Regions from separate parts of the Homo sapiens genome. Here regions 1 and 2 are each linked to region 3. Evidence: fine-mapped expression QTL. A gene starts in region 3. Each other region holds a variant in brackets. All regions are shown on one strand. Distances are from middle to middle.

What was found. PIP is the estimated chance that this variant, and not a neighbour inherited with it, causes the effect.
Region 1: its variant is the best candidate, but not a certain one, in a credible set for the expression of TMPRSS13 in whole blood (TOPMed, PIP 0.71).
Region 2: its variant is the best candidate, but not a certain one, in a credible set for the expression of TMPRSS13 in monocytes after R848 (Quach 2016, PIP 0.89).

What each region holds. Positions count from the first base shown.
Region 1 is chr11:117,954,897-117,963,078 of GRCh38, forward strand. No RefSeq gene overlaps it. Among named protein-coding and RNA genes, the nearest start is that of IL10RA, 27 kb to the right of the region's middle. The variant ATAGT/A (reference allele first, on the strand shown) is at 4,296.
Region 2 is chr11:117,971,141-117,979,322 of GRCh38, forward strand. No RefSeq gene overlaps it. Among named protein-coding and RNA genes, the nearest start is that of IL10RA, 11 kb to the right of the region's middle. RefSeq lists a silencer at 1,678-2,092 and an enhancer at 6,189-6,358. The variant A/G (reference allele first, on the strand shown) is at 3,709.
Region 3 is chr11:117,925,770-117,933,951 of GRCh38, forward strand. It overlaps TMPRSS13 (transmembrane serine protease 13), which reads right to left and starts at 3,633. Exons shown (of 13, transcript NM_001077263.3): 1 at 3,518-3,633. The coding sequence starts at 3,538. RefSeq lists enhancers at 6,316-6,855, 6,494-6,623, 6,856-7,394.

The DNA of each region.
Region 1 (8,182 bases), 29 kb after region 3:
GGAGTAAGACTCTGTCAAAACAAAATTAAAACACAAATAAGACCCAGAGAAGAATTATGCAGACAGTAAAAGTGGTTGTGTGGTACATACATTTGTCAGGAGTCACCAAATTATACATTTAGGATCTGTGGATTTTACTGTATGTAATTGTGTCACAATTTTTTTAATTACTGTGGTATAGAATGTGGTCAAAAGCCTGTATTTTGAACTCAAATGGATCTGGGTTGGAAATACCAGCTCTACCAATTCCTAAACAAATTGTTTAACCTGTCTAAGCCTCAACTTTCTGCCTGTAAAGTAAGGATAATGATAGTATCTACTTCATATTATACTTGTGAGGATTAAGTAAGATAATTACTAAAAAATACATTAATACAATGTTCAACTTTTAGTTTTCAATAAATACGAGCCACCCTTTGATAATATAGAAAAATACAATGACAGAATATAAAATATAAAAGGCAAATTCAAAATTATACTTCTGGCATGAATAAAACTGTATTTTTAAAAAACAGCTTAATCTATGTCTAAAACAAAGACAAGGAGAAAATACATCAATATACTAGCAGCAGAACATGTCTATAATTTCAGCTACTTGGGAGGCTGAGGCAGGAGGATCACTTGAGCTCAGGAGTTCAAGTCCAGCCTGGGAAACATAGAGAGACCCTATCTCAAAAAACAACAAACAAAAACTAGCAGCAGTGGTTATGTCATGGGACTATGAATGATTTATTTTTCCTTCTTGTAAACTCTCTGCACTTCCAAATTTTATTTAATAAAGTGCACCCTTTTTAAATGAAGAAAAGCGTATTTTATTTTAAATAAGAAATCATTGCAAAATCCCATTGTTTAGAAGATGGGAGTGCTTCCAAATGCTAGGGTTTGTTAGTGTTGCCTATCCCTAGAGTACTTAAAAGGGGATGAACCTTCAAAGTGGGAGAGTCAAGGAGCCAGCTGTAGGGAACCAGAGTGTGCAAAATCCAAGGAATGGGGCACAGACAAAGCTGCCATTGAACACAAGAGAATTCCAAATAATCGATGAGTGACTGAGTGCAATTTGTACGAAGCTTAACAAACTCCAAGTGGGAAAAATGCAAAGAGAAACACCCCTTGGCACATCACAGTAAAACTGCTGAAGATAAAGTCAAATATAAAATCTTTAAAAAAAAGCCAGGAAGAAAAAGATAAATAATCTTAAAAGAACAAAAATAAGATGACTGACTTTTTGTTATGGGTTGAACTGTGTATCTCCCACCCCCTACCAAATTCATATGTTGAAATCCTAACCCCCGTACCTCAGAATGTGGCTATATTTGGAGACTGTGTCTTGTCAGAGGTAATTAAGTTAAAATGAGGTCATTAAAGTGGGCCCTAATTCAGTATGACTAGTGTCCCTATAAGAAGAGGAGATTTGGACCCAAACTTGCACAGAGGGAAGATCGTGTGAAGACGGAGGGAGAAGATGGTCATCTATAGCCAAAGAGAGAAGTCACAGAAGAAACCAACCCTGCCAACACCTTGACCTTGGACTTTAGAACTATGAGAAAATAAATTTCTGTTGTTTAAGCCAAAGGCCCAAGACTGTTCCTCTAGAGAGGCCCAAGTGGCACTTTGTTACAGAAGCCCTAGAAACTTAATATACGTTTTAACAGAAACAATAGGAGCCAGCAGACAGTGGAATGATATCTTTAAAGTGCTGACAGACATATGTAACAGATCCACAGCCAATATCATACTGAATGGGAAACAAGTGAAAGCCTTTCTTCTAAGATCTGGAACATGACAAGGAAGCCCACTTTTACCACTATTATTTAACATACTACTGGAAGTCCTAGCTAGAGCAATAAGACAAGAGAAAGAAACAAAGGGCATCCAAATTGGAAAGAATGAAGTCAAATTATCCTTGTTTTCAGATAATATGATCTTTTATTTGGAAAAACCTAAAGACTCCACCAAAACTATTAGAATGGATAAATAAATTCAGTAAAGTTGCAGGATACAAAATCAACATACAAAAATCAGTAGCATTTCTATATGCCAAAGGTAAGCAACCTGAAAAAGAAACCAAGAAAGTAATCCCATTTACAATAGCTACAAATAAAATAAAATACCTAGGAATTAACTTAAAGAAGTGAAAGTTCTCTATAATGAAAACTATAAAACACTGATGCAAAAAATTGAAGAGGACACCAAAAAAAAGCGGGGGGGAAAGATAGTGTATGTTCATGGATTGGAAACATCAGTATTGTTAAAATGTCCATAGTACCCAAAGCAATCTACAGATTAAATGCAATCTCTATCAAAATACCTATGACATTCTTCACAGAAATGGAAAAAATAATCCTAAAATTTATATGGAACCACAAAAGACCTGGAATAGCGAAAGCTATCCTGAGCAAAAAGAATAAAACTGGAGGAATCACATTACCAGACTTCAAGTTATACTACAGAACTATAATAACCAAAACAGCATGGTACTGGCATAAAAGCAGACACATAAACCAATGGAACAGAATAGAGAAGACAGAAAAAAGAATCAATACATATAGAGAACTCATTTTCAAAGAAGATGTCAAGAATGTATGTATTAGCCAGGGTTCTCTAGAGGAACAGAACTAACAGGATAGATGTATATATGAAGGGGAGTTGATTAAGGAGCATAGACACACATGATCACAAGGTGAAGTCCCACAGTAGGCCGTCTGCAAGCTGAGGAGCAAGAAAGACAGTCTGAGTCCCAAAACCTCAAAAGTAGGGAAGCCAATGGTGCAGTCTAGTCTGTGGCCAAAGGTCCGAGAGCCCCTGGCAAACCAATGGTGTGAGTCCAAGAGTCCAAAATCTGAATAACCTGAAGTCTGATGGTCGAGGGCAGGAAGCATCCAGCAAGGGAGAAAGATGGAAACTGGAAGACTCAGCAAGTCTGCTCTTGCATCTTCTCCTGCCTGCTTTATTCCAGCCACACTGGCTGTTGATTAGACGGTACCCACCCAGACTGAGGGTGGGTCTGCCTCTCCCAGTCCACTAACTCAAATGTTAACCTCCTTTGGCAACATGCTCACAGACACACCCAGGAACAATACTTCACATCCTTCAATCCAATGAAGTGGATACTCAGTATTAACCATCACAATATATATTGGGGAATGGACAGTCTCTTCAATAAATGGTGCTGGAAAAACTGGATATTCATATGCAGAAGAATGAAACTAGATGCCTATCTCTTGCCATACACAAACATCAAATCAAAATGGATTAAAAACTTAAATCTAAGACCTCAAACTATGACACTACTACAAGAAAACATTGGGGAAACTCTCCAGGACATTCGAGTAGGCAAAGGTATCTTGAGTAATACCCTGCAAGCACAGACAACCAAAGCAAAATTGGACAAATGGGATCAAATCAAGTTAGAAAGCTTCTGCACAGCAAAGAAAACAATCAACAAAGTGAAGTGACAACCAATAGCATGGAAGAAAATGTTTGCAAAGTACCCATCTGATAAGGGATTAATAACCAGAATACATCAGGAGCTCAAACAACTCTGTAAGAAAAAATCTAATAATCCAATGTAACAACGGGCAAAAGTTCTGAATAGACATTTCTCAAAAGAAGACATACAAATGGAAAACAGGTATATGAGAAGGTGCTCAACATCATTGTTCATCAGAGAAATGCAAATCAGAACTACAGTGGGATATCATCTCACTCCAGTTAAAATGACTTTTATCCAAAAGACAGGCAACAACAAATGCTGGCAAGGGTGTGGAGAAAGGAAACCTTTGTGCACTGTTGATATTGGACAACACTGTTGGTGTTGGAAAACAGTTTAGAGGTGCCTCAAAAAACTAAAAATAGAGTTGCCATGCAATTCAGCAATCTCACTGCTGGGTACATACTCAACCGAAGGGAAATCAGTATTTTAAAGAGATATCTGCAGTCCCATGTTTACTGTAGCACTATTCACAATAGTCAAGATTTGGAGGCAACCTGAGTGTTCACCAGCAGATGAATGGGTAAAGAAAATATGGTGCATATACACAACGGGGTCCTATTCAGCCATAAAAAAGAATGTGATCCTATTATCTACAACAACATAGATAGGACTAGAGGTCATTAAGTGAAATAAGCCATGCACAAAAAAGACAAACTTTGCATGTTTTCACTTACTTGTGGGAGCCAAAAATTAAAACAATTGAACTCATGAAGATAAGAGTAGAAGGATGTTTACCAGAGGCTGGGAAAGATAGTAAGGGTGGAGTTGGGAAGGAGTGCAGATGGTTAATGGGTACAAAAAA[ATAGT/A]TAGAGAGAATGAATAAGACCTAGTATTTGCTATCACAACAGGGTGACTATAGTCAATAATAATTTAATTGTACATTTTAAAATAACTAAAAGTGTATGATTGGATTTTTTGTAACACAAAGGATAATGCTCGAGGTGATGAATACACCATTTACCCCGATGTGATTATTACACATTGCATGCTATATCAAAATATCTCAGACCCCATAAATATATGCACCTATTATGTACCCATAAAAAATAAAAATAAAAATAAATAAAGTGCTAATGGAAAATAACTTCCAACCTAGAAGTCTATAATCAGCAAAAATATATTTCAAAAATGAAAGTAAGGACTTCCTCTTCTGGCCAAGATGAAGTTACAGGAACTGCATTTATCCTCCCACCAGAAACATGCCCTCCCCAAATGGACAAAATGTATGAAACAATAGTTTTTGAGACTTTGAACATCAGGCAAAAAAAAGTCAGGGACCCTTAGAGACAGAAAACAAATAAGTAGAGCCATATGATTGCCCCCAACGAATTGCCTTGAGAGAATTTCCAGGCCATAGCATGGGTGGGGGTGGAGGTCAGTGGGGGAACTCAACCCCTATGTGGGTGGGGTTAATAGGACAGAATACCAGAGGAGAGAGATGAACAGAAAGGGAACTTCAGATATCTAAAGAGGGTTTCCTTCAAGTGTTCAGCAGAATACTGATGATTGTACTCATAAGAAAAAACTATCTGAGGCCAGGCAAAGAAGCTTCTGAAAGAATGAGAGAGAACAGTACCTGGTATGCAAACAGAATTGAGAATAGTGCCTGTTCCCACTGTACAGACTAGAGAAACTTACAATTCACAGGGAATTAGGTGGAGGATTCAGGATGATCTTGCCTCAGTAGGGGGAAGTAACTAGCCCTAGGCTAAACAGTACTTTAAATTTACCTAACAAATCACAAAAGCAAGACATAAAGGATCAAACTGTTTCCAAGATACTTAGCTGCATCCCAAAACATAGTTCAAGAATAATTACAGGAATACCACAATATCAAGTACCCAACAAGGTAAAATTTACAATGTTTAACATATATCCACAGATTACCAGGCATACAAAGAAAGAGGAAAACAAGACCCATAATGACAAAATAATCAATCAATTGAAACCAACCCAGAACTGACACAGATATTAGAATTAGCAGAGAAGGATGTTAAAACAGCTATTATAACTGTATTTCATATGTTCAAAAAGCTAAGTACAGACATGGAAGAATATTTTTAAAGATGTAATTCTAATTTACAGATGAAAACTACAATGCCAGAAATGAAAAATATACCAGATTGGATTAAGAGCAGAGTAGACATTGCAGAAGTTAAGTGAGCTTGAAATCTTAGCAATAGAAACTGCTCAGCAGTTCAGAAAATGAAACACAGGGGAAAAAATCATCAAAAATGAAAAGGAAAAAGAAAATAGTGTCAGTGAGCTGTGAGTCAACTTCGAGTAGCCTAATATTGGATTCCCTAAAAGAGTCCCTAAAGCAAATGAGAGAGGAAACAGAAAAATATGAAAGGATAAGAGCCAAAAAGTTTTCAAACTTAATGAAAACTGTAAACCCACAGGTCCAAGAAACCAACCAAACAAACAAACAAATAAGCAAACAATAAAACAAACCCCAAAGCACAAAAATATGCAGAAAACTATAGTGAGGCAGATTATAATCAATTTACTAAAAACCAATGTTAAAGAGAAAATCTTAAAAGCAGCTAGAGAAAGACATGTTACATACAGAGGAAGAATTAAGATACGGATTTCTCATCAGAAACAATGGAAGCAAGAAGACTGGAACAACATCTTCAAAGCACTTGAAGGAGAAAACAGTCCATCTAGAATTCCATGCCCGTCAAAAACATCTCTCAAAAATAAAGACATCTTCAGACATAAAAAAGCTGAGAGAAGGCCGAGGCGGGCGGATCATGAGGTCAGGAGATCCAGACCATCCTGGCTAACACGGTGAAACCCCGTCTCTACTGAAAATACAAAAAATTAGCCGGGCGTGGTGGCGGGTGCCTGTAGTCCCAGCTACTCAGGAGGCTGAGGCAGGAGAATGGCGTGAACCCGGGAGGCGGAGCTTGCAGTGAGCCGAGATCGCACCACTGCACTCCAGCCTGGGTGGCAGAGCCAGACTCCGTCTCAAAAAAAAAAAAAAAAAAAAAAAAGGCTGAGAGAATTTCCACCAGCGGAACCACACCATAAAAAAAGTAAAAGGAAATTCTTCAGGCAGAAGGAAAAGAATACCAGATGGAAACCTGGGGTGACACAAATAAATAAAGAATACTGGAAATGGTAGTGACTACATAGGTAAATATATGAATTTTTAAAAATTATTTAAATCTCTTTCAAAGATAAGGGACTGTTAAACCAAAAACAGTTACAACGTATTGTGGGGTTTAGAATATTTGTAATAGCAAAATGCATGATAAAAACAGCACAAAGGCTAAAAAGGATAAAAATGAAAGTATGCTATTGTAGAATTCTTCTACTAGGCATAAAGGACTATAATATCAGTTGAAGTAGGCTGTGATAACTTAAAGATGTATGCCATAAACCCAAAAGCAACCATTAAAAAAGATCCCCAACAGCCAAGAGTTATAGCTAATAAGCCAACAAAAGAGATTTTAAAATACTCCAAAGAAGGCAGAAAAAATGGGAAAGGAAGACAGAACAGATGAGACAAAGAGAAAAGAAATAGCAAGACGATAGACCTAAACCCAACCCAAAAAGCAAGATGCAACTCTATGCTGCCAACAGGAAATTAGCAACAAGGACACCGTGGCTCATGCCTGTAATTCCAGCACTTTGGGGGGCCGAGGTGGGCGGGTCTTCTGAGGTCAGGAGTTTGAGAGCAGCCTGGCCAACATGGTGAAACCCTGTCTCTACTAAATACACAAAAATTAGCCAGGCTTGGTGGCCCTGGCCTGCGCCTATAGTACCAGCTTCTTGGGAGGTTGAGGCGGGAGAATCACTTGAATCCAGAAGGCGGAGGTTGTAGTGAGCCAAGATGGCGCCACTGTGCTCCAGCCTGGGCGACAGAGTGAGACTCCACCGAAAGAAAGAGAGAAAGAGAGAGAGAGAGAAAGGAAGGAAGGGTGGAAGGAAGGAAGGAAGGAAGGAAAGAAGGAAGGAAGGAAGGAAAATATTTATTTTAAATATAAAGGTACTACATGTTAAAAGTAAAAGGATAGGATAGTGTAAACCACACTAACACTAGTCAAGAGAAAACTGGAGTTACTGTGTTACTATCAGACAAGGTAGGTTTTAGAGCAAAGGATATTATCAGAGCTAGAGAAGGTCATTTTATAGTTATAAAGGGATCAATTAATCAAGAGGACACAATTCTAAAGTGTTTATGCACCTTTAAAATATAGACAGTAAAAGTTGCTAGAGTTGCAAGGACAAACAGACAAATTGACAATTACTGTCAGAGATTTCAATATACTTCTCTCAATAAGTGGTAGAATAAGTAGAAAATAAATGAGAACATAGTACATTTGAATAGTACTATCAATCAATTTGACTGGATTGACATTTATAGAACATTCCATCTAACAACGGCAGAATACACCATCTTTTCAAGTATACACAAAGCATTTACCAAGACTGACCATATTCTGGGTCATAAAATAAATCTAAATAAGTTCCGAAGGATTTAAGTCATACAAAATATGTTCTCTGACCACAGTGGAATTAAATTAGAAATTAATACCAGAAAGGTACCTGGAAAATCCCCAAAGTTCTGGTAACTGAGTCCCATACTTCTAAATGACCCATGATCATGACCCAATAAGAAATTGAAAGGGAAATTACAAAGTATTTTGAAATAAATTAAAACGAAAACACAACATAGAA
Region 2 (8,182 bases), 45 kb after region 3:
CTGGAAGCTTTCTTGGCCTCCTTACCAGGTAAAACCCCAAATACAGGCTCTCATGGCACTTACCACAGTCGCAACTCTGCGTTTTATTTGAGTGACTATTTGATTCACATCCATCTCTCCTTCTAAACCGCAAGCTCCTGGGGGGCTCTCCTTTGCTCACCGTGTATTCCCAGCATCCTGCACACTGCCTTGCACTGAGGAAATAGCCAGTGACCCTGTGTCGAATAGGGAATGACTGAATGAATATAGAGATGAATGTTGAAACTGGAACACTCTCTGTGGTAGGATGAAAATGGCCCCCAAAAGATATCCAGACCTAATCCCTTGAACCTGTGAGTGTTACTTTATATGGGAACAGTGTCTTTGTATATTGGGTCTTGAGATGGGGAGGTTATCCTAGATGATCAAAGTGAGCCCTAAATGCAATTGCATTGGAGCTCTTAAGAAATTTTTGGTATAAAAAAGAGGCAGGGAAAGATTTCACTCTCACACACACACACACGCACACACGAAGGCTAGCCACCAGGAGCCAAAAGAGGCAAGGAACACATTCCTTCCTAGAAAATTCCAGCCCTGCCAGTACCTTGATTGCAGCCCAATGAAACTGATTTCAGACCCTCCAGAACCAGGAGAGAATTCATTCCGTCATCTTAAGCCACCCAGTGTGTGATAATTTGATATAGCCTTGGGAAACAAATACACCTGACCTCCAAAACCCTCCTCACCCTGACCCCCAAAACCCTCCTGCCTTCTCCGTGTCTAAGCACGTCAGATTTATGGGGGATGGAATAATCTAGAATAATCTGAAATAATTTTAAAAGGAAAAAAGAAAAGGGGATCAAGAAGAAAGAGAGGAGAGGGTGAGTGTAAGGAGGGCTAAAGCCCGAGTGTGCAGGGGGATCATAATTTACTCAGAAGCTGCAGGAAGAAGAGCCCTATGTCCATGCCTCTCTCGACTCTCCTCCAGGGAATGTTCTCCACAAGTGGGGGAGGCTGAGAGTTCTCGAGTTCCCTGTCTGTCTCTCTGTCTGTCAGCCAGTAGCCATGAGCCCCATGAAGGAGCCATCCCTCACTTAGGTGGGCCTCACTCACTGGGCGCCAACCCCTCCCACACCGGCCGGGCACGCCCTTACCTGGAGGCCTGGCACTTGCTGTTCCCTTTGCCCACAACACCCTTCGTTCAGATATCCACACGGTTCATTCCTCACATCCCTTGGGTCCTCATTCTAATGTCACCTACTGGGGGAGGCCTGCTGCCCACTCTATTTAAAATGGAGGTGGAGGCCAGGCGCAGTGGCTCACGCCTGTAATCTCAACATTTTGGGAGGCTGAGGCAGGTGGATCGCTTGAGCTCAGGAGTTCAAGACCAGTTCGGGCAACATAGGGAGACCCTGTCTCTATAAAAACCTAAAGAAAAAAAGGAAAAAAAATGGAGGTGGGGGAGGGAAAAGGAAAAAAGGAAAACAAAAAGGCAGCCCTCCCTCCCTACTCCCTAAACCCCTTTCTTACTTTATTGTTCTCGGTGGCGCGTATCACTGTCTGACATGCTACACATTTCTCTCATGTATTGACTCTTGGTGTCCGTCTCCTCCTGCTGCAATGAACACTCCATGTGGCAGGAGTTTTGTTTGCTTTGTCTGCCTCGAATGAAGCCTGGTATGTGGCAGGAAATCAACAGCTATTGAAGAATAAACACTCTCAGAGGGCATTTCTCCAGGAAGATGGAGGCGCTGGGGTGAGCAGATGGGAGCGGGATGATAAAGTCTCTGCTTCAGAAGCCACCAGCCCAGCCACGTCTTCTGCAGATCCTCTGTGCCAAATGCAAACCCTGTCAAGGCATTTCTTACACTTTCTAGTAATTTTCATTCCCACAGACCCCACCCCTGGCTGCCTTGGGCTGTGAGCCTCCCACAGGGGGAATTGGCAGCACCCAAACACCTGCCAGTAGTCCCCAAAGTTGGTTCTTTCCCTGGCAGCCTTCCAACTGGACCTACTGCTGGAATTGTCCCACTTACTGCTTTTTGTCTGTGGCTGGTGTGCGTGGGGCTGGCAGGAGCAGTCAACAGGAATAGTTAGAGTCAGACCTGGGCTTACAAGCCAGCTGTACCACTTATGGAGTTACCTTGGGAAAAGCATATAACCTTTCTAAGACTCAGTTTCCTCCTCTGTAAAGTGGGAAGAGAAGACCTATCTCACATAGAATCAGAGGAAGTACATAGTAGCAAATTGCCCAGCACAACAATAAACCTTAGATTTCCTTTCCCCCACTCTTTCTAACTAAACATCCTCCAAGACAAACATAGTATCCTTTCTGTTTTTGTCCCCAGGTGCTTAGCACAGTGCCTGACACAGGGACTACTCAATGAATGTTTGCAGATTTGAGCTACTGACCCAAGAAGAAGGTGTGGCAGTTATGAACTTTGTCACCAAATTGGGATCTCAGAAGAACTGTGCAACTGACTTATGCTTTAGTATGTGGTGACCACAGTTGGCCTAGGGAGAAGAATTGAGTGGAGAGGGGGAAGTAATCTTGAGTCTGGGGCTTAAGAAAGTGGTGTAATAGCAAGAGGCTGTGACCAACCGCCATAAGTATCTCGCTTTGTGGGTGGACAGGAGGCCTCTCCTGGGACCAGTGGATGGGTGAGCACCCAGTAATCACAAGGAAACCCTTCTGTTAATGTATACGTATAGACACACGTAGTGACTGCTTACCAGAATTTCATGAATCTCAGCATCTATTTACTTCAGCTTTCCAACATTAGGCTGAGAATTTATTTCTACAATGTGCAACAATAAACATGAGTCACCTCTTTGAAACTTCATACTGTGCACCAAGTGTTGATCAAAACTGTGTATATTTCTGAATACGTATTTACTTAAATAACTTGTATGGGTTTTGAACACATTTATTAATTAAAGTTAAAAAAAATTTTTTTTGAGACAGAGTTTCACTCGTTGCCCAGGCTGGAGTGCAATGGCGCAATCTCAGCTCACTACAATCTCCGCCTCCTGGGTTCAAGCAATTCTCCTGCCTCAGCCTCTTAAGTAGCTGCGATTACAGGCATGTGCCACCATGCCCAGCTAATTTTTTTTTTTTTTGTAATTAGTAGATACGGGGTTTCACGATGTTGGTCAGGCTGGTCTTGAACTCCTGACCTCATATGATCCACCCGCCTTGGCCTCCCAAAGTGGGATCACAGGTGTGAGCCACCGCACCTGGCTAGTTTAAAATTTTTAAAAATGTGAAGATGACCTCACCATATACAAGAACTCAAAGAATGCTCAGAAGAAATGCTAATTTTTTTCATGGTCCTGGTAATTTTCCACTGGAATTTTGGGGTGTCCTGAAAAGAGAGGCTGGGGTAGGACAGAGGGACAGGTTAGTGAAGACAGAAAGGGGGTTGGCTGCGGACTATCAGAGATACCAGCAGGACCTCCCCCACCAATATCACCCAAATGTTGGCCTGTTTAAAAGAGTTTGGAAAAGGAGGTGAGAAGAACATCACCTGTCTTGTTCTTCTGTCCCAAAAGGTCAGATCGCCACAGAATGAATGTGGGGGCGAGGTATGAACCCGCTATGCTCTTGAGATAGCTCTTCCTCTCTGACTTTCGTTTTCTTATAAATTATAAAACTTCACAACTCCTTAGGACTGCAGAGCTTCTCTTTTCATGCCCCACTCCCACACATCCTCTGCTGGGCACTTGTAC[A/G]TGCTCACCATTTGTCATCCCTGGCTGGCCTCCAGTTACCATTTCTTTTCTTTTCTTTTTTTTTTTTTTGAGACGGAGTCTCGCTCTGTCACCCAGGCTGGAGTGCAGTGGAGCGATCTCCGCTCACTGCAAGCTCTGCCTCCCGGGTTCACACCATTCTCCTTCCTCAGCCTCCCGAATAACTGGGACTACAGGTGCCCACCACCACGCCCGGCTAATTTTTTGTATTTTTAGTAGAGACGGGGTTTCATTGTGTTAGCCAGGATGGTCTTGATCTCCTGACCTCGTGCTCCACCTGCCTCAGCCTCCCAAAGTGCTGGGATTACAGGCGTGAGCCAGGCACCTGGCCACCATTTCTATTTTTTTTTTTTTTTTTTTTGAGACAGAGAGTCTCGCTCTGTCGCCCAGGCTGGAGTGCAGTGGCGCGATCTCAGCTCACTGCAAGCTCCGCCTCCCGGGTTCACGCCATTCTCCTGCCTCAGCCTCCCAAATAGCTGAGACTACAGGTGCACGCCACCACGCCTAGCTAATTATTTTTTTTTGTATTTTTGGTAGAGATGGGATTTCACTATATTAGCCAGGATGGTCTCCATCTCCTGACCTCGTGATTTGCCTGCCTCGGTCTCCCAAAGTGCTGGGGTTACAGGCGTGAGCCACCACGCCCAGCCCACCATTTCTTACATTTGTCATTAATTATGTGAAAGAGGAAAGACTGTACTTCCAGTGTGTCCTGGGAAGAGTGGTGGAATGGAAACATGTAGGTAGATGACAGGAGCCCCCTGAAAGGATTCTAGGGTTCCATGGGGGGCAGGGAGACCCCCTGGAGCCTGGGGGACAGGGAGAAGAGGCTTCCCACTGTGAGCTGCTCAAGACATGTTTGGCCCAGCAGTGAACAGAAAGGAAACCCAATTTATAGGAAAAATGACAGCAGTACTAATATCCACAAGTATATAACACTTTAGAGTTTACAGAACACTTTAGATCTAAGCTGTTTCTTCTCATATCATAATGAAGTTACCTATTGAAGTCTAAACACCCTAAAAGCGCATGAGTCTGATAAGGCCAGTGTCTTACTAATTTTTGGATCCTACCATGCCTAGGCAAGTGTACTTAACAAATGTTTGCTTGCATTCATCCTCTCAACAACCCTGACAGGTTGGAAGAAGTGGTATTATCCTCGTTTTTTAGCTAAGAAATCCGAGACCTGGGGAATTCATGACTTACCCAAAGTCACGGATGGCAACTGACAGACCTGGGGCTTGAACCTCAGGCTTAGGTCTTCCCATTGAGCACTCGGGCTGCTGCCAGAGACAGGGGAGAATATAGAGCTTTAAATCCTTGAAGCAAAGGAGCTGTAATTCAAGGATTTACAAGACATTTCTGCATGACAGAGGAGTGATTAGGATTTGTCTTCACATGGGAGTCTCCCTGTATTGGGTGAACCTTCTTAGTCTTGTCAATATAAAGTACATGCATACCCATTGTTCTGGAAGACATCCTAGACATCTGTGATGGGTCCGAGACAGAGTCCTCAGACTGAAGTGTTACTGGTTTCATTTAGCAATGTCAGTGGAGTATCTCCTTAGCAGAACCATGCCCCTGAGGAATTACAGAATTTGTTTCCCAAAGTCTCAATTTAGGCTGTCCCATGGCTGAAAATCATTATCCTTTGTCCAGTCATTGTTCACTGCAGGGCAGGAGCCCAGACAACCGCAGGAAGAGCAGGCAGACCAAGTCTCTTCCCTTCCGGGCAGGAATGACCGAGGTAAGGCCCTGGATTGGGCCTGATTTGTCATTATCTGGGCCACACGGCTGCTGGCCCACCTGCAGGGTTATTTAAGGCCAAGGCAGGCTTAAGGCAACTAGCCCTATGTGAGCCATTGGAGCCAGGTTGTACCTTCAGGATAGGTCTAGGAATTTCTCTTGAAAGATATTGATGTTCTTGCTGTGAATCATCTTGAGGCAAAAAGTTAAAAACAAAACAAAACAAGGTGGTCTTTGGGCAGGAAGAGGAAGGCCTCTGCTCTCTTTATGGGCAAGGAGGGTGTTCAGAGAGGCCTAGAGACTTCCAAAGGCAAGAAGTTCACTGGCCTCTCCCTGCCACCAACATTGCCAGAAGCTTAAGGAGGGTTTGCAAAATGCAGCTGAACTGGTGGGTGCTCTGAAACTACTGCTTTGAGCAGTTGTAACAGACTATCTCTTTGGTACTTTTGTTATTTGAGAGCTTCCAATAGCATTTTTTCAAAGATGCTGGGCCTGTGTCCGTACTTCAAACAAACAGCTGCAGCTCAGAGGCCACCACCGTGAGACGCTCAGAGGTGAGGTGCAAGCCCTCTAGGATGGCTCTGGGATTGGAAACCCAAGAGCAGATGGACTTCCTGCATTTGTGGGATGGGAGTTCAAACTGTTGTTATTTTAGAATTAAGGGGAAATGACACCCTTAAAAACTGGAGAAGTCAAGGCCATCTGGGCTGCAGAAGGAAGACACGACTGTGTCTTGAAATGACACGAGATATTTCTGTCAATGTTCTGTTCTTCACTTCTTGCATCCCAAGTTCACAAAGCAATGACAATGGACTAAGTTCATGGACCAGGTCCACAGCCTTCCTGACGAGGTGATTTTCTTAAAATAATTCTGGGGGAGGGAGGTGTCCCAAGTACAACCAAAGGCCCAGTTGTCCCAAGATGGTGTGGTGGGCCTCAGCACAACATACAACCCAGAGTGAGGCCAAACACATCCAGGCCATGAAAGAAAGGGGCTAGATCCCTCTAGTCAGCGTGCTTTTTGCTGAATGTTTCTACAGACCTCACTCCCTCTTGTGTCCGGAATTGGTGGGTTCTTGGTCTCACTGACTTCAAGAATGAAGCTGCGGACCCTCGCGGTGAGTGTTACAGCTTTTAAGGTGGCGCGTCTGGAGTCTGTCCCTTTTGATGCTCAGATGTGTTCGGAGTTTCTTCCTTCTGATGGGTTCGTGGTCTCGCTGGCTCAGGAGTGAAGCTGCAGAGCTTTGCGGAGAGTGTTACAGCTCTTAAGGCAGCGCATCTGGAGTTGTTCGTTCCTCCTGGTGGGCTTGTGGTCTCACTGGGCTCAGGAGTGAAGCTGCAGATCTTCGCGGTGTTACAGCTCATAAAAGCAGCGCGGACCCAAAGAGTCAGCAGTAGCAAGACTTATTGCAAAGAGCGAAAGAACAAAGCTTCCACAGGGTGGAAGGGGACCCGAGCGGGTTGCCAACGCTGGCTCGGGCAGCCTGCTTTTATTCTCTTATCTGGCCCCACCCACATCCTGCTGATGGGTAGAGCCAAGTGGCCTGTTTTGACAGGGTGCTGATTGGTAAATTTACAATCCCTGAGCTAGATACAAATGTTCTTCACGTCCCCATCAGATTAGTTAGATACAGAGTATGGACACAAAGGTTCTCCAAGGCCCCACCAGAGCAGCTAGATACAGAGTGTCGATTGGTGCACTCACAAACCTTGAGCTAAACACAGGGGTGCTGATTGGTGTGTTTACAAACCTTGAGCTAAACATAAAGACTCTCCGCGTCCCCACCAGACTCAGGAGCCCAGCTGGCTTCACCTAATGGATCCCGCACCGGGGCTTCAGGTGGAGCTGCCTGCCAGTCCTGCGCCGTGCGCTCGCATTCCTCAGCCCTTGGGTGGTCGATGGGACTGGGCGCCTTGGAGCAGGGGGTGGTGCTCCACGGGGAGGCTCGGGCCTCAGAGGAGCCCATGGAGTGGGTGGGTGGCTCAGGCATGGCGGGCTGCAGGTCCCGAGCCCTGCCCCGCGGGAAGGCAGCTAAGGCCCGGCAAGAAATCGAGCACAGCGCCGGTGGGCCGGCACTGCTGGGGGACCCAGTACACCCTCCGCAGCCACTGGCCCGGGTGCTAAGTCCCTCATTGCCCGGGGCCAGCAGGGCTGGCTGGCTGTTCCGAGTGCGGGGCCCGCCAAGCCCACGCCCACCCGGAACTCCAGCTGGCCCGCAAGCGCCGCACGCAGCCCCGGTTGCCGCTGGAGCCTCTCCCTCCACACCTCCCTGCAAGCTGAGGGAGTGGGCTCCAGCCTTGGCCAACCCAGAAAGGGGCTCCCACAGTGCAGTGGGGGGGCTGAAGGGCTCCTCAAATGCCGCCAAAGTGGGAGCCCAGGCAGGGGAGGTGCCGAGAGCAAGCGAGGGCTCTGAGGACTGCCAGCAGGCTGTCACCTCTCACTCTCACTTGAGAAGCCATTATCAGTTACCAGAACACTTTGTGTCTGGCTTTACAACAGCCCAGATTCCAATCTTGCCAACAGCTAATAGAGCCAAAGGGACCGGTTCCAGGGTGCACGACTGGTAGTGACCAAGCTGGGGCTAGAAGTAGGTCTGTTGGTTTTGAGGTAACCAGGCTCCTCCCACCTAAGGCAATGACCAAGAACAGTGTCCCAGGCAGATTATAGGAATGAGAAGGCTCTTAGCCCCAGCTCTGCTGATTTAAAGTA
Region 3 (8,182 bases):
GTTCTGCCAAAACAAGACACTTAAGCTAAGTGGCCATTGTTACATCAGTTGTCCTTCCCACCCAGCTCCCCAGCCCAGGGCCCAATACACACACTCCCGCACGCTTACGCTCACATCTGCCAAGTCTCAGGGGACAATGCAGGGGAAATCGAGGTGGCTGTGCCAAAGGAAGTCTGCTCCTCACCAATGACAACATGAAACAGAGGACAAGGTGAGGGCTGCACACCTGCAGGGGCACAGGGCAGGTACCAGGGTCCTTGGAGGACGAGGTGAAGGCTGCACACCTGCAGGGGCATAGGGCAGGTGCCAGGGTCCTTGGAGGACGAGGTGAGGGATGCACACCTGCAGAGGCATAGGGCAGGTGCCAGGGTCCTTGGAGGACGAGGTGAGGGCTACACACCTGCAGGGGCATAGGGCAGGTGCCAGGGTCCTTGGAGGACGAGGTGAGGGATGCACACCTGCAGAGGCATAGGGCAGGTGCCAGGGTCCTTGGAGGACGAGGTGAGGGCTACACACCTGCAGGGGCATAGGGCAGGTGCCAGGGTCCTTGGGGTGCCTGGGGCTGGGATGGGGCTGGGACACGGCATGGCAGAGTGACTTGACCCGCGGGTGAGCCATCTCAGGAACTGCCCAGCTCCTCTGGAAAGGGTGCCTTATCCTGGACCAGCGGTGGGCCCCCAGACGGTTCTCACCAATCCCTAGCACCTGTGGCCTTGGGCTAATTTGGAACCTGTTCCACTTGAAGAAGGCCCAGTATAAGAAAATCCACTCCACAAAGGAATGTTGCTTCATCAATGGGTCTAATTCAGTCTTTCTTTAATAAGCATTGCACTGCTCTGAGAATTAAAAATGAGAATTGAAAAAGCACAAAATACGCATTGTCAAGAACAAATCTGGTGTGGCGCACCTGTCATCCCCGTTCTATGTAATTCCAGACTGTCAGGGAGCCAGAAAGGAGCCTCAGGGGGGAATGTGTCCAACCCTCTTCTTTGGTGGGGAAGCTGAGGCACAGGTAGAAGAAGATGTTTGTCCAAATTTATAGGAGCCCACCCCAAATTCTAGGCAGTGATGATAAATTTCAACATTCTCTGACTCCATCTCTATCTATCTATCTCTATCTCTCTATGCCAGATGCTATTCTAAATGAGCCTTACTATGGGAAGGACACTATTTTGAGACTCCTTGAGGTAGGTATTATTAAATTAAGCTTAGCCTAAAGCTGCCTCCTTACATATTTTAAGTTCGGATCAAAAGGTTTCTCTGTACATAATGAACTATAACTCAACTGGACGTGTAAACAGACTGTAAACTACTCTTGTTAACAATCACCAATTTTGCACAATCAAAGGCAGCCAACTGTTCAAACAGTGTTCAAATAAGGCTATTTCTGTACCTCACTTCCTTTTTCCATACACTGCTTGCCTTTTTCTGTCCATAAATCCTCTCCGACCACGCAGCTGTGTGGGAATCTCTCTGAATCTATTCTCCTTCGGGGGACTGCTCCATTTGAGAATTGTTCTTTGCTCAATTAAACTCTGTTAAATTTAGTTTGTCCAACATTCTTCTTTTGAGAGTAGTATTATTATTCCATTTTACAGATGAAGAAACTAAGGTACAGAAAGGTGAAGTGGCTTGCCCAAAGCTGACGGGGAACATGGTCAGTTCTCTGTCCACCACGACATGCAACTTTCTTTTGAATATGAGAAACTGAGACCCTTCTCCACCTCTTTTCCAAGATCCCTCTGAAGATCCAGCAGCTGACAGAGGAGTGCCATCAGGCTCAAGCCCACTGGCCACCATCTTCCTCACGACATTTTGGAGTTGAGGGACAGAAATCACAATGCATCTCTCTGCAATAAAGCCCTCAAGGAGAAGGCACAAGCTCAGGTGACCAGCTTCTCCCAGACCACTCCTATTTAATCAAGGTTAAGAAACCTGCTGCAGATGGGAATACGAGCCCCAACTATAGGCTCACTCTCTCAGAGTTCCATCTTAAATAGGGGAGTGAAGTTAAGAACCTTAAATAAGAATGTAATGATTCCATTCTTCCATTCCAAGGTAAGTTTGGACAATCTTTTTTTCAGAATGAATATGGCACCTATCATAATATTTGACACTTAATTCATAGATTAATTGGGAGTTCCTCAAAGAAGTCTGTTCTCTGTCCTGTATCCCTCCAGCAGCCTTCATGTTGATCCCTGACTCTGAAGAGATGAGCTTCCTGGGAAGATATCGCCCCATCACCCTGTCTCAGGGATGGACTATCCATCTCCAGTGGGAGCATGGCCACCCTCCGGATAGCTCAGCCCTTCTCACTCTTGGGTTTAGGGACCATCTAGTTTAGGCTCCCAGCATATTGCCAAGGAGGATGCCCCATGGCTGTGACTAAGGGTTCACCTTCTGCATGCCCTTGTGTACCCCCCTTACTGCTCAACAGTAAGAGGCTCTGATAACCCCCCAAGGCCTAGGGCCAAGTGACTTTGGTGAGGTAGAGACATGAACGAAGGAGCCCAGAGCAGAGGGCAAGGGAGGCAGCCTGGGAAAGAAAAGTCAAGAGGGGGCTGGAAGAATGGTGGGAAAAAAATGATGGTAAAGTTTGCAGAAACACATTGGGGGTGCAGAATGGACCACAAGCCAACTATAAGCCAAAACATAGGATGAGCTGATCTTTCCCAAACCCAGTGCTAGCCCATTCTTCCCAGAGTCCCAGGCTCTACCATGTCGGTAAGGTACAGAGAATTTGGAGGGGGCAGAAAACAAGACCTAAAGGAGAAATGAGAGCACAAAAGGGATTTCCTGGAGGAAAAGAAAGTGGAGGCACAGCAGAACAAGATCTTTGGAAGCCTTCATGTGTGTATGACTGGCTTTCCCACAGAGGACAGGCCAGCTGCTTTCTCCTACCCCAAGAGCAGCAGAAGAAAGGAAGTTGAGTGGTAGCAGGACTTGTGGTTAAACATCAAGAAGCACTTCCCAAGCATGAAAGTTATTAAGTCCAAAAAGAAGTGACCAACGGAGGTTGAAACATCCCCTTGAAAATCTTGAATGCACCCAGAAAGTCACAGTTTTCTGGGAAGGTTTAGGAGTGTAGTGAGGGGTTTAGACAAGATGCCCCTGAATTGCAGTTAGAATGCTTTTGATTTTCCAACCAGCAAAAATGAGATTAAAGTAGATTAGCCTGGATTCCCAATCGGCAAAGTTGGTGCTGTAACACTATGGATGCCCGGCAGGAGTGCTCACAGACCACAGAGCAGGAAACCCACGACTCAGCCACATAGCCCTGGGGTGCTCACCAGCCAGACCCCAAATCCCAGCAGCTTCTCCTCCCAGGGGCTTTTTCTAGAACCACGTTAAAAGGAGACCAAGAGATCTTGATCGTAAGTAGCTTCAAACTAGAAGAGGCACAGCCAGTTTCCCCCAAACCTGAAACACAGAGGTAGCTGTCCCACCTGTCTCCCAGCCTCAGCCCTGCTTCCTCAGCGCTGGGAGAATCTGGCCCGAGGCCTGAGGTCACACTCACCCCGTGGCTGTCCCTCTCCATGGTCTCTGAGGGGAAGAGTCCTCCAGGCTTAGCTGATGTCGAGGAGAAGATCCATCTTGGTCCCTGGCTTCTCAGGCATGTAGGGTAAAGGAGTTGGAGGGCCAAGGGCCAGCCCCCACCAAATGGGGCGGGGAAGCCGGTTGGGACGTGTGAAGTAATCCCCAGTATAAACAACACAGAACTAGCCAGACCTGTTCCTCTGCCCCTCATCGAGGCCATCCCAGTTACTCAGCGAATACCAAATTCCAAATACCGGGAACCTGAAGCTGCCTTTACTCATGAAACTGCCCCCACAGAAGCAGAGGAGTGTTCTGAGCTACTTCTTCAGAGGGGCCCTGAGAGAAAGGGCAGAGCCTTGAGAGGATGGTCTTGGTCCTGTTGACCTGAGCCCCTGAAACAGATGCTCCAGAGCCTTCTGAGGGATGACCCTATCCCCACAGGGGACGTTCCAGGCCAGGGGCAGAGCCCCACCTATGGCAGGACAGTGGGAACCTTCATCTCCAAGGACCAGGTGTCCAAATCCCAAATCAGGGCACATGGTCTCTGGGCGCATGGTCTGGCAATTGCTTTCTCCTGAACTCTGTTTGTTTTTATGAAACTCTTAACAAAGAAATGAAAATCAAATGACCTTTAATTATGCACATCATGAATTGCCCTCTATTGAAAACAATAAAGTGCCAGAAGCAACACATCAAAGTCAATGAAATAAAACATAACTATCTGAATGGAAACTGTTCCAAGAAACATTGGGCTGACTCGTGATCCCAAACCTATACCCTATTCTGATCCTCAGAGTCAAAAGAAGTAAAGGAAGGGCTATTGCAAAAGGAGTCCTTAGCACCTCCGGCTAAGTTCCAGCTGAGCTGCTGCTGAGAACTGCAAAAAAAAAAAAAAGAAAAAGGAGTTCCTGTTGAGGTTTGGGAAGAACTTTCTTGAGCATTCAGAGGCACCAAGATTTTTAGAGTTTGAAAGAAGCTCATGGATCTTTAGTGGTTCACTCTTTTCATTTTACAGACTGCGAGACAGAGGGCCAGAGAGGCTAAGGAATGTGCTCAAGTCACACAGCAAACAACAGCAGCAGCAATAATCTTAAGATGCCAAGAATCCTGCGAAACACTTCACACGCATCCTTCACGTGTTCATTCAACAAATATGTATTGAGTGCCTGGCATTGCTTTAGGTGCTGGGGACACAGGAACAAAATAGGCAAAGCCTCCTGCCCTGTGGCTCTAGTATTTGCGGGTTGGGGGGAAAAAGCAGACAAAAATCAATAAATCAGTTACACAGCCTCCTAGAAAGTGAAAAGTGCCGTTCACAAAAACAAAGCAGCGAAAGGATCCAGAAGGTAGGGGAGGCAGAGTCCTGGCAGTTGGGAACAGGATGGTCAGAGAGGGCTCTCTGTGGTGACATATTTGAGCAAAAACTGAAAGGAAGTGACTACTATCGCCCCCCATTTACATTCAAGAAAACGGAAACTTCTAGCTCACAGTGGAAACTGTGCCCCAGCTTAGGGTGTCTTGAGGGAAATCTAACCCAGAGGCAAGAGGCTGGAGGAGAGAACTCTGGAGGGCCCAGGCAGGGACCCTAGAGTTCTCTCATCTTGGCTTATTGTGGGAGCCACTTCCCTGGCTTTCAAAGAGAGCAGAATTCAGCCACAGGCCACATCCCCTTCCTGCCCCATCCACCAGCCCACCATGACAAAGGGGCCCCTCCCATCCATCCTCCTGAGAAGATACCCACCTCCTGTCCTCAGCTGCTCCTCTTCCCTCTCTCCCAGGGAGGAGCCCAGCCCCTCTCTGGCTGCCACTGAGCCCTGGCACGCCCAGGCCAGATCCGAGGGCCTCCACTTCATCCCCCAGGCAGGCCACTGGTCTCCGAAGGGCACCCTCAGCCTCCTTCCCTGAAGGTCCCACCAACCTAGGGAAAGAGCTCAGGCTTGGGGGTCTGGGCGAGTTCGGGGGAATGAGAACCCTAACTCTGAGGGGAACTCGCAAGGCCTGACAGGTTCACCATCGGGAAAATGAGAACACATAGAACCAGAGGAAGTGCCTGGCACGGGGCACAGGGCACTGGGAAGGCTGGGAAGGAACATCAGTTTCACCTCTTGCTCTTTTCCTTGGTTTGCATCAGAGACACAAGTTGGCCTGTCCCAGAGTCCTCGCTGACAAAGCAGTCTGACCCGTGTGACATCCCCACCAAGGGCAGTTCAGTTCAGCAAGGATTGACTGCTCAGCACCAGGCCCACGGTGGCTGCTGGGGAGTGAGAGTGGTGGGCAAAGAACAGAAAGGCAGGGGCCCTGCCCTGGGAGAACACACAGTTGATGTGTTGGGGCGGGTGGCGGGGGGACACTGAGGAATGAAATTCCTAGCTGGTGGTTTTCCTATTTTCAGAGTGAAGGCGCTGCGGCAGCACAAGACCTGGATGCTTCCCCCACAGAGCTGGACTTAGAGGCCTGCACCGCTTTTGACTTCCCCACTGACCCTGGCCTGGCCCTTTCCTTCCCCCTCCTCCCGGCCTCCTTTGCTGTCCTCCTGACTGTACAATCCCAGGCTCTCTCTGACTCCCACCCTTTCCTTTGCCTCCTTCTCTCTGGCCTTGGTCCCTGGCTTTCTCCCTTCAGCTCCCTGGTTGCCTTCTGGAAAGACACCTGCCCACCTCTGGCTACTCCACACCCAGAGGCTATTGGCAGCACCTGGGACCCACCTTCTGCTCCCTCAACGCCCCAGGGAGAGTGTAGGCCAGCCATCAGGCCCATTTGTACCCTGGTCATTTCCTACCTGGGTCATTTCCATGTGGAGTGAAGGGAGTTTTACAGAAAAATGTCAGCCATGCAAACAAGCACACATCTCCTGGCAGCTGTCCAGGAGAGTGAGGTGTGAGAAAATCTCACTACTGTTTTGAGACTAAACTCCTAGCTCTCTGCTTCCATGGCTGTTCTAGCTACCACTACCCCAGTGCCTTGGGAACTCCTTCCTGAGGCTCCAGCCTGGGAAACAGAGCTCTGGGCCTTCTATTCCCAGCCTTGTTATCTTCCTTGGAGTTCCCACCTCGGGCCCATGTTCCTCCCTCCTGAGCCTATCAGCAGCTTCACCCCTGAATCACCTCCCAACTCCCTGCTTGGAGCCCTTGCCTACCCTTCCCCACTTTGCACCCCGCTTCTGAGCTTCTCCACCACTCTTGGCACAATAGGTGGGTTTCCCTCCAGGCCTGAGGGCAGCCAGGAAACCAACTACATACTTAAAGACTCAGTGTGGCAGAGGGGAGACACTGGGTCCACCCTCAAGGGGGTGAGTCACCAGGAGCCACCCCTGGGCCCAGCACACCTAACGCTCCTATGGTCTGTACTGCCCCACCCCCCAAGCCCAGCAGTCTTCCCAGCTGCAGCCCCAGGCAGGTCTCTTCCGCCCCCACTTAGCCTTCCAGGGCCGTCCTGGGTCCCTCCAGGCTGTGGTCCTAGCCGTGCCTCTCCCCACTCCAGGCCTGCAGAGGTTGATCGCCATTGAGTTCTGTGGACTAGAGGCTGGTTCTCTCTTCCTGCTTTTCCCTTGGGGCTGGACATCAGTGATCAAGTGAGGCACTTGCCCAGGCTGCACAATTTAAGAGCGTGCCCAAATAATCAAGATAAATCATGTTTTAATGAAATATTTTTAAAATCTGCATTAACGGGAAAAGTCCAAGGTGAATAAAATATCAGAATTTTAAGTAAAGACAGGATCAGCTTTCCATCTGGATTTTGTCTCCCCCTTTTATTACTCACATGTTAGCAGGGCCCCATTTCCCCTCGTGATTATTCCTTCTACTTTCTGCAGGATATTGTCCCAGCTGCTCAAAACATCCAGGCCAACCAAGAGCAAGGAAGGCCTCTTCCCAGGGGGTGAGCTCCCTCTCTGCACAGAGCAGACCTGAGCCCTAGAGAGCTGTTGTCTTCACTGTGAATTTCCACCCTGAGTTCCTTCTTTTTTGTGCCGTATTACTTCATTTTTGGTCTTCCATGAATCTGCATGGCTTACATGTTCTTTGTTGTGGCTGAACAGGAGTCCTCAGAATTAAGCAAACTGGTGCCTGCCTGACCATTTGTTGAACATGGCACTTGCTACCAATCTGTTCTAAGATTTGTTTTTTTAAATTAACAATGCATCAATAATAAGTTAACAATTAAATGAAGGCTGACAAATGTGCACACCTGTGTAACCATTATGACAATCAAAATCTAGAACATCCCCATCACCCCAAAAAGTTTCCTCCCACCTCTTGCAGTCAATTCTCCACCCCATCCCAGCCCCAGACAATCACTGATCTGCTTCCTGTCACTAGAGGTTAATTTTCCCTTTTCTGGAATCTCATCTAAATCTCCCCTAAGATTTAATGCTGAACCCTGAGCGCAGCCCAGCCGCGCCACTGCCTCAGGACTCACATCAGGTGCTAGGTCATCCAGATATGATAAGAGGAGGCCAGATCATGTGGAGAGATTTTTTTTTCAAGCCAAGAGAAAACAGCCCATGAGTCCATACCGAGTCCCTGGTCCCCAGCTAGCCTCTCAGCAGCTCTAAGGGAGGCTCTCAGGGGACTCTGCTGGTGGGGCAACTCTAAGGTTCCCTATTTCCAGCAGATACTGGGCTTCTCCCCTGGATAAAGAGGAAAGA